2 separate regions of the Homo sapiens genome follow, and region 1 is linked to region 2. Evidence: fine-mapped expression QTL. A gene starts in region 2. The other region holds a variant in brackets. All regions are shown on one strand. Distances are from middle to middle. Region 1 overlaps C3orf22 (chromosome 3 open reading frame 22). Region 2 holds the start of CHST13 (carbohydrate sulfotransferase 13).

Region 1 (4,385 bases), 24 kb after region 2:
CCACTTGGAGCCCAGGACCCTTCTCTTTTGTTGCTCCCTAGTCCCTAGGGCCTGGCCCTTTTCCATGAGAGTGAGCCATTCACTTTTCAAGTATCCCAATGTCAAAGGGAAAAGAAGGGCACCCAAGCTGGCTTTAAAGACACAAACTGGACAGTCCATTCCATTTCCAGTGCAATGCCATTGGCCTGAACCTAGCCCACTGTATTCCCAGTGGCAAGGGAGTCTGGGAACTGACAGCCAGTTTTAGGTCGGGTGCCTCAATGCGCTCCCTAGCATCTGCAACCCTCCCGCAGTCTCCCTCTGACCACCAGGCCTCTTGGCCTGGGCACAAGAAGGCTGGGTGTGCAGGAGTTAGTGCCCCCTGGAAGCAGTCCTCACCTACATCTGTTGGAAGTCGGGCGATAAATGCTCCAGCTTTTATCCCTGCATGAAGGACATTGAGACACAATCTGCATGGTGCCCCAGATTTCCCCACGGGGACTGGGCACCAAATGCCCTCAGTGGCTGCTGTGGACTGAATTATGTTCTCCCCAGTCTTATGTGGAAGCCCTCACCCACAATGTGATGCTATTTGGCGATGGGGCCTTTGGGAGGTGATCAGGTTGAGATGAGGTCATGAGGATGCGGTCTCCATGGTGGGATTAGTGTCCTCATAAGCAGAGCCACTGGAGAGTTCTCTCTCTCTCCCTCCCCGCCTCTCCCTCTCACACAGGGAGAAAGCAGCCATCTACAAGCCCAGAAGAGAGAAGAGAGCCCCCATCAGGGAACCAAGGCAGCTAGCACTTTCACCTTGGACGTCCAGCCTTCCTTGGAACTGGGAGAAAATGAACATTGTTTAACTCCCCCCAGCCTGTGGTGTTTGCTACGGTGGTCCCAGCAGACTAAGCCGTGGTTGCCAGCTCAAGGGTACATTCCTTGTCTGGTTCCGTCCCTTCCCTGTCTCCTCCCTACTTCTCTATGGGCTAACTGGGATTGCCTCTCACAAAAACTACTCACACTCCATCCTTGCCTCCAGAGCTGGTTCTGCGGGACTGAGGCAAAGAGGGAATCAACCATAAATCCATGATGACATGCTGCTTTTGTTCCACTGGTCTTAAATGCTAGGTTAGTTTGGATCCTTTTCTGTGGCAGTGCCGACATGAATGTTGTTGCATACCCTCCTCCTGCATAGGTGTGAGTGTGACTGCAGGATAAACTCCTGGGAGAGGGTCCACACTCCCCAATGCACCTCCACCGTGCCTCATCCTTTCTACCTGTGGATCTGTGTTTGACTGTAACTGCTCACAGCTTAAGGGCACATGGGGACCCAGATGGCCTCAGAGATGCAGGGCACAGGGCCCATGTTGCTATCTGGGCCACTGTGTGAGCATTTCTAAAGTTTATGGAGTAGCTGTGCTTAGAGAGTATTGCTGCACCATCTCTCTCCTGTCAAACATTTCAGCTGTCACCCGCTCCTCTGCAAGGGCTTCCATGCGGTGCAGCTTCCTGGGGGCTCATTTTCTTCTTTGCAGGAATAACATGCACATAAACCTAAACTCAGTGCACAAGGCAGGGGCTGCAAACACATCCCAGCTGCCCTCAGATTCTTCCTTTAAACGCCCAGGAGAGGAGGCACGAATTACAGACCATGTATGTTTTTATAATTGACTCTGGATTCAGGTAATGAGTTACCAACTTTTTCTACAAACCACCACCAGCTTTGCTATCATGAGTGGAAGAGCAGGCAGCCAGCGACCCCTCCTGCTCCAGTCCCAAAAGCTCTGGGCCCTGCCTATAGTGCAGGTGTGGACCAGAGGGAACCTGGAGAGGCTGGGAACTCTCTGGAAATTGTTCTGGCAAGAGCTGATAAAGGAGGTGCTCAGGAGCCCTCCAACCAACCAACCAGCAAATCCTATCATGGGTTGGGGAGGGGAGACAGTACACCCCAGGGGACAGGGACAGGAATGCCTAGAGCAGCAGCACCCACAGTAGCACAAAGTGGAAACAACCCAGACATCTACCCAAAAGAGAATGGACACATCATGGAATGAGAAACAGTGGAAAATGAAGGAACTACAGCAGTAGCATCATCATCACATGACTCTTAGCAACTTGCTGTGGAGGGGAAAAAGTTGCAGAGTTTGACACAGTCTTATATAATTGAAAAAAGCAAACAATGTGTTATTTCAAGGAGTGCAGTGGTGCGATCTCAGCTCACTGCAACCTCCACCTCTTGGGTTCAAGCCATTCTCCTGCCTCAGCCTCCTGAGTAGCTGGCATCACAGGCGTATGCCACCATGCCCAGCTAATTTTTGTATTTTTAGTAGAGACGGGGTTTCACCATGTTGCCCAGGCTGGTCTCGAACTCCTGGGCTCAAGTGATCCACCTGCCTTCAGCCTCCCAAAGTGTTGGGATTACAGTCGTAAGCCACCATGTCTGGCCAAATTATAACATTTTTTAAGTGGGGAGAAAGATGTGGTGACCTGATGGGCAGGGTACGAGGGACTCAGGGTGTGGTGAAGTGGGGGAAGGAG[C/A]ACCCAGCAGGGATAAGAGTGGGTCTCGTGTCCCTGGTTATGCTGCATGGTAAACATGCGTTGCTGTATTTTGCTTATATCAAACAGTGCATAGCTTAAACCTCAGAGACAACCTCCTCGAAGCTTATACAGTCCAAATGAAGATCAGCCTGGCTCCCACCCTCACAGGAAGGGACCCCAGGGATCTTTGCTTCCTGCAGGTCTGTGGGTGCTGCTGGAAGCTGTACTCTATCCCCAGGCAAATGCTGTGAGTCCCCTGCCTGGACCTGGGGTCCCACCTGGGGAGGGAGCCTGGAGTCTTGGCTGGGGCGGCACAGTGCAGCCCGGTCACCCTTCCCCAAACACCACAGATGTGACTCCAGGGTCTGCTTCGTGCAGGTTGGGAACCCACCCCTGTCCTGCCCCCAGGGCCTGGGAAGCCAACCCCCTTCAATCTTTTCATCACAAGGGTCCTCACTTCACTTCCTTTCTGAGACAATAAAGCCACTTGCCCACCTGGGGAGAAGACAATAAAGCCACATCCCACTCCAGGGAGAAGGCTGCAAAGTGTCCTGATTTTATTCACCCTCCCAAGGAACTCCAAGGTGACTTTCTAGCCCCTGTATTTGTAGAACACAGTGGGGGGACCCTTAAATCTTCAGCAGGCACCCCGCTGCCCAGTGCTGCTGTCTTGCTTTACAAAGGCATCACCAGCCTCCAGCAGCCACACCACGCTCCTTACATTACTGATGTTGTAATACAGGAATATGGCATTAGGCTCATGTATGACAACCCACAAAATGGTGTGCCTCACTCTCGGTCCTGTCCCCAGGTCCCCCATTCTCCTCCTCAAAGGTAATGATTGCTGCCTGCTCCTCATCCACGCCCCCCCCCCCACACACACACATACACACACCGTTTTTAGTAAACACAAGATGGCAGCATATCAGACACACTCTTCTGCTGTGCTTTTTAACAAAAATTGTAACAGACCTGTACATCATTCAGATCAGTCTATAAAGAGCTGCCTCTACATTTGAATGGCTGCCTAAGATTTCCGGGAGTAGTTGTATAATTTAGCAGTTTCCTGTGAGTGTTTAGCAAACAGTTTAGCTGCTTTCCAATCCTTTGCTGTTTCCAGCAGCACTGGAGTGAACAGCATTTACTTACCTGTGTGAGTGTACATTTGGGATAAAGTCCTAGAAGTGACATTCATGCTCTTTTTAATCCTCACACCAACCCTGCAAGATTAAACATTATTACAACAATTTTAGAGATGAGAAAATGAAGGCTCAGGGAGGCAAAGTGATCATTCCAGCTGGAAGTGGGGTGGGAACTCGCAGTTTATTAGCTTGGTGTAGCTTTTTGGGGGGACCACAAACCACTCCCGGTCTATGATGGCCATGAAGGCTGATCCCTTTACTAAAGTCTCTGTGGCTACTGCCCAGAGCCTGCCAAGGAGAAGGTGGCCAATAAGAAGGCCACACACAGAGCCCAGTCTCTAGGAGAGGCCCCTGGACAGCCCTGCCGCCTTGCTGGTCTGGGGGCAGGCAGCCTCAGTGTGCCGGGTGGACAGCAGGAAGGCGAGTTGTCTGGGGAAGCGGCGACTCAGCAACTTGAGTTCCCAAAGGTTGCACAGTGGAGGTGGTGATGGTGCTGGTAGTGGTGCCGGGCAGGAGCCAGACGGTGATGTAAAATCTGGAGCCCCGAGCCTAGAGAAGCCACACAGAGCCACGCCTGGCCTTCAGGACCCCTGCTGGCTGCAGCCATTGCAGCCCAGAGAAGTCAGCCAGGGCCACATCTGGGAGGGCTCCAACTGAGATCTACTCCCAACCAGGCTTGACCTGGCCCCTTCCACACAGAGGCTCTGCCACCTGATGTCCCAGGAAGCC
Region 2 (4,385 bases):
CAAAATTGTGAGCAAAATTTAAATGGTTGTCTTAAGCGGCCAAATTTTAGGGCAGTTTGTTACCTAGCAACAGCAACTGGAACATCACCTCAGGGCCTTTGCAATGGTACCTGCTGGCTTCTGCTCCCTGGAGTCACATCTCTGCTCCAATGCCACCTCCCCCAGGCCTGCCCCGGCACCCTCCTTGCACCGGACACACTTTTCATCCTGGTACCCGCTGTGTTTTCTTCACAGCAGCATTCACCGCTCTATCTCTCTATCCTGATTTTCCGTGCTTCCAATCTGTAATGGAAATGCTGTGAGGGCAGACACTGCATGGGTCTCACCCTCTCCACCCAGGCCTCAGCACGGAGTGGGTGTTCTGTATCTGTCGAATGAATGAATGAATGCGAGTCCCTGGGAGAGGGCGTCTTCGCAGGGAAGCTCCCTAGGCCCCGGGCGTCTAGCCAGGCATCTGCACCCTCCCACCCCAAGACCCAAGACCATCTCTTCCTTTCTCCAGGGACCCCATTTCCAGGGACATCTCCGGATGAAGGGCTGAGATGTTATTCCCAACTTTGGCCACCAGGTGGCAGCATATAAGGGCAAAGCGCGCTGAGGATTCCAGGCTGGCAGTGAGGCCAGGGAATGCCGGTCTGGGGAAATTTGGAAGGCACCTTTGGATGCGAGTTAGGTCCGGCAGGGAATGCAGATGACCTGGAATCCCTGGGTCCTGGGCCAGTCTGGGGGTGGGCTAGAGGTTCCCCAAGGCCAGAAAAGTCATGATAAGAAGCTTCTAGCTTACTGTGAGTCTGGACTCCCACCCCTGTCCTTTGAGAACATCATCACCATTTAAAGCTGTATCTCAAAACCAGCAGAACTATTATTTGCTTAATATTCTTCCTTAAATAGATCTTCCACAACTTAAATAAATATAGTAGGGAGAAATTTTTATTTCACCACTTTAACAGAAACCAGCCACTTGCCAGAAACAGGCAGTAACCATAAACAAATTAATTACTAATATCAAATACTTACCTGGCACTCACTGAGTGCCAGACACTGTTGCAAACATTTCCTGTATCTCATTTAATCTTCACAGCACTGAGGTTTAGGATTATCCCCCCGTACAGGAAAATGGGAAACAGAGAGGTGCAGTTAATTTCCTAATCTCCCACAGCAGTAAGCGGCACCAGGTGGGTTTGGAGTCACCACATTTTTCAAGAACAGTTTAACAACTGGAGCTTCGAGTGTGGAATAATAGACACTGGAGACTTGGAAGGGTAGGAGAGTGAGCGAGGTGGGAGGGATGAGGAATTACTTAATGGGTACAATGGACATTATTTAGGTGATGGTTACACGGAAAGCCCAGACCTCACCACTGCATATCTCCATGTAACAAACCTGCACTTGTGTCCCTTACATTTATACAAAAAACTCCAAAAAAAACCTACAGTGTAATGTAGTACCCTATCCCATGCACTCACACTGCTAAATGTTGTTTCCAACGCACTCATCCGCGCACCCAGTGCCAGCTGCACCCTCCCGTTCCCTGCTAGCCTGACTTCTGGGCAGCAAGACCCTGCGGTTAGACGTGGGCTCCTGCCCACAGGGCTAGCTGGATGTGTGTGTCTTTCAAAGGCTGGACTTTACTCTCACCTCGCCCCCTCCACCCCCCAACACACACACACACACACACACACACACACACACACACAGTCCCTGGCAAGTCCTCAGAGCTCACGTGGTGCCCAGAGAAGTTGTGGGTGACACGATGAGGCACAAGCTCCATTCCCCGGGGGATGTAAGCTGAGACCCTACCTCTCTGTGCAAAGGCTAGTGCCACCTGCATGAGCTAGATTCAGGCAGGACCTGGAGACCCTGGAGGAAAGCAAGGCTGCAGGGTAGCCTTGGGTCGGGGAGGGAGGGACACTCTTAGGCCTCTTACTGAGGGCGGGGGTCCCGGAGAGCCATGGACAGGGCAACGCTCTACTAGGCTCCTTGGTTCATCCCAGATCAGCCCTTGGGCCCCTGGCATCTAAGGCAGCAAAAAGGCAAGGGGACACCGCCCGGGGTGGGGCACGCCACCGCGACAATGCCTCTTGGCCTTGGGTGGATAATGGCACCCCTGGGCAAACCCTAGGGGCGGGGCCCAGAGGCGAGGGGCTTCCCCAATCAGTCTCCGCCCTAGCGCCCTGGACTTCGGCCCCATTCCATTGGGTGAGGGTGGGGGCACGAAAAGAGGAGCGGGCTTGCGGCCCCACCGTGTCCCGCCTCCTCAGTCCCCAGCGACTCGCAGGGGCTGGTGGGGCTGGGGTCCAGCTGCCGTGCTCCCCTGCCCTGCGCCGCGCCGCGCGTCTTGGTAGGCGCTGCGCTGCCGGGGCCGGGTCCTGGGCCAGTGCAACTCCGCCCCCAGCCGTATCCAGCGGACTGTCCTCCGCCGCGCGCCCGGCACAGCATGGGGAGGCGCTGCTGCCGGCGGCGCGTGCTGGCGGCCGCCTGTCTGGGCGCCGCGCTCCTGCTCCTATGCGCCGCGCCCCGCTCCCTGCGCCCGGGTGAGTGCCCGCCGGCCGAGCCGCGCACCCCCAACCAAACCTGGCTCCTCGCGCTTTCCACCGCGGCCTGACCCCTCGACAGCGCGGGGGACACCTGTTGTCTCCTTCCTGGCTGGGGCTAGGGGTGGCGGGCAGGGGCGCTGGTGAGGCACAGAAAGGCTCTAGACGCCCCCGCGAGCAAAGGCTCTTGCTCCTCCTCCGGAGTTACCTCCCCACTCCCAGAGCGGTGACTGTTTTGAGTCCCACAGCCGGTGCCTGGAGACCGGGGTCAGTTGTGGGGGGTAGAGGACAATTGGCCAATCCGGGAAGGCCATCTCCCTTACCTTCACCCCCTTCCCCTGCGCACCCCACGGCCCCTGGACATGAGCGCTGCTGGGCGCATGCGCATAGGAGGGGAAGCTTGGGCCACTCGGTCCGGTCCCTTGGTTGTCCTACTGTGCAGTGGGTGCCACTCCCTGCTCCACCCTGAAATCCACACTGGGTAGGGCTTGGGACTCCTGTGCACCCACTCGTGGTCTGGCTGGGGAAACTGAGGCAGTTAGTCATGACTCCGCAGAGCTGAGTGCCCTGGGCTCCACCGGTGCTGAGTCTTTGCTCTGAGTCTCTCCTCAGCTCATGTGAAGCCTCCCATCAACCCATTTCACACAATCTGAAGCGGGCCAGAGAGTGGGGAGACAGGTGTGGTGGCAACGTGCTGGCTATACAATCTACTTGGGACTGGAGGGGCCCAGCCAGCGCCCGGGTCTCCTGACCTCAGGGCTGTTTGCCTTTCCTTGTATGTGGTATGCGTGCTGGGTGGGACGACTCAGTCCGCCTCCCCACCCCCAGTGTGGGCTCTGAGAATCCTGGGCCCCACCCTTGGAACCTGGCAGACACAGTCCCAGGGAGTAAGTAACTAGGTCCAGGGTGGGCGGGGATGTTGGGCAGTGGGGGTGGGAGTGGCCCAAGACTTGAGGATATCAGGGCCTGGGGAGGCCTCTGCCCACTCCCCCTGACCCTCACACTGCCCCTTGCCCCTTGTGTGTCCAGACACAGCAGGTCAGACCTGGATGCCTCCCCAAGCCCATGGGATAGGGCTGGGGTGTCTCTTTCCAGCACCCCCACAACCCCTTCTGTGAGCTGTCTGGTGGTGTTGAGCAGACAATCTCCTGGCAGTCTGGGGTGTGGACTCAGTGTCTGTGGCTGCCACAGCCTCTGTCCACCGAGTCATTCAGTAGACAGATGTTTACCCAGTACTAAGACAGGGCAGAACTTGGTGGCTACTGGCCCCTCAGGGCTCAGCGTGGGATGTTAGAGGACACCTGAGTGCCTGGGTCCCGGGGAGTGTCTGCAAAGGAGCATACATCTTTGAGTGACTGCATGGAGTGTCTGCGTCCCCATGTCTCCGTGGGACACCTCTCTCCTGTCACCTACTCTACCCAGGTTTGAGGGATGAGAAACAAACCAAGGTACTAGTCACCTTCTGGGCTTTGTTCCTTCTGACCTCCCTCCCTCTCCTGCAGAGCCTGGGAAGAGACAGCAGGTGTTAGGAGGACGGCTCCGAACCTCCCTTCCCAGCCTCTGCGCAGGCTGGGCTCTCCACCTGGCCTGTCCTGCTCTTGGCCATGACCTCACCCAGCATCTCAGCATCTCTCTCTGTTTCTGTCAAGCGCTCTTGTACCTCTCCCATGGCCTGTCTCCAGCCATCACAGCTTTGTGAGTGACCTTGGGCGAGCAAGAGTTAATCAGACCAACCTATCCAGCCTCTCACACTGGCTTTTCTCTCTCCCAAGCCCTGAGCTGAAGCTTTGGCTGAGACTATGCTTGTGGGCCTGCAGGTGGCACACAGGGAGGGCACTCAGCTGGGAAAGG

The links.
Region 1: its variant is fine-mapped to the expression of CHST13 in whole blood (INTERVAL, PIP 0.95).

Annotation. Positions count from the first base shown.
Region 1 is chr3:126,545,874-126,550,258 of GRCh38, forward strand. It overlaps C3orf22 (chromosome 3 open reading frame 22), which reads right to left. Exons shown (of 4, transcript NM_152533.3): 4 at 3,819-4,205. The coding sequence ends at 3,995. Among named protein-coding and RNA genes, the nearest start is that of C3orf22, 11 kb to the right of the region's middle. RefSeq lists enhancers at 3,199-4,080, 4,081-4,385. The variant C/A (reference allele first, on the strand shown) is at 2,515.
Region 2 is chr3:126,521,896-126,526,280 of GRCh38, forward strand. CHST13 (carbohydrate sulfotransferase 13) reads left to right here and starts at 2,260. Exons shown (of 3, transcript NM_152889.3): 1 at 2,260-2,534. The coding sequence starts at 2,438. RefSeq lists enhancers at 1,584-2,084, 2,085-2,585, 2,646-3,146, 3,147-3,647.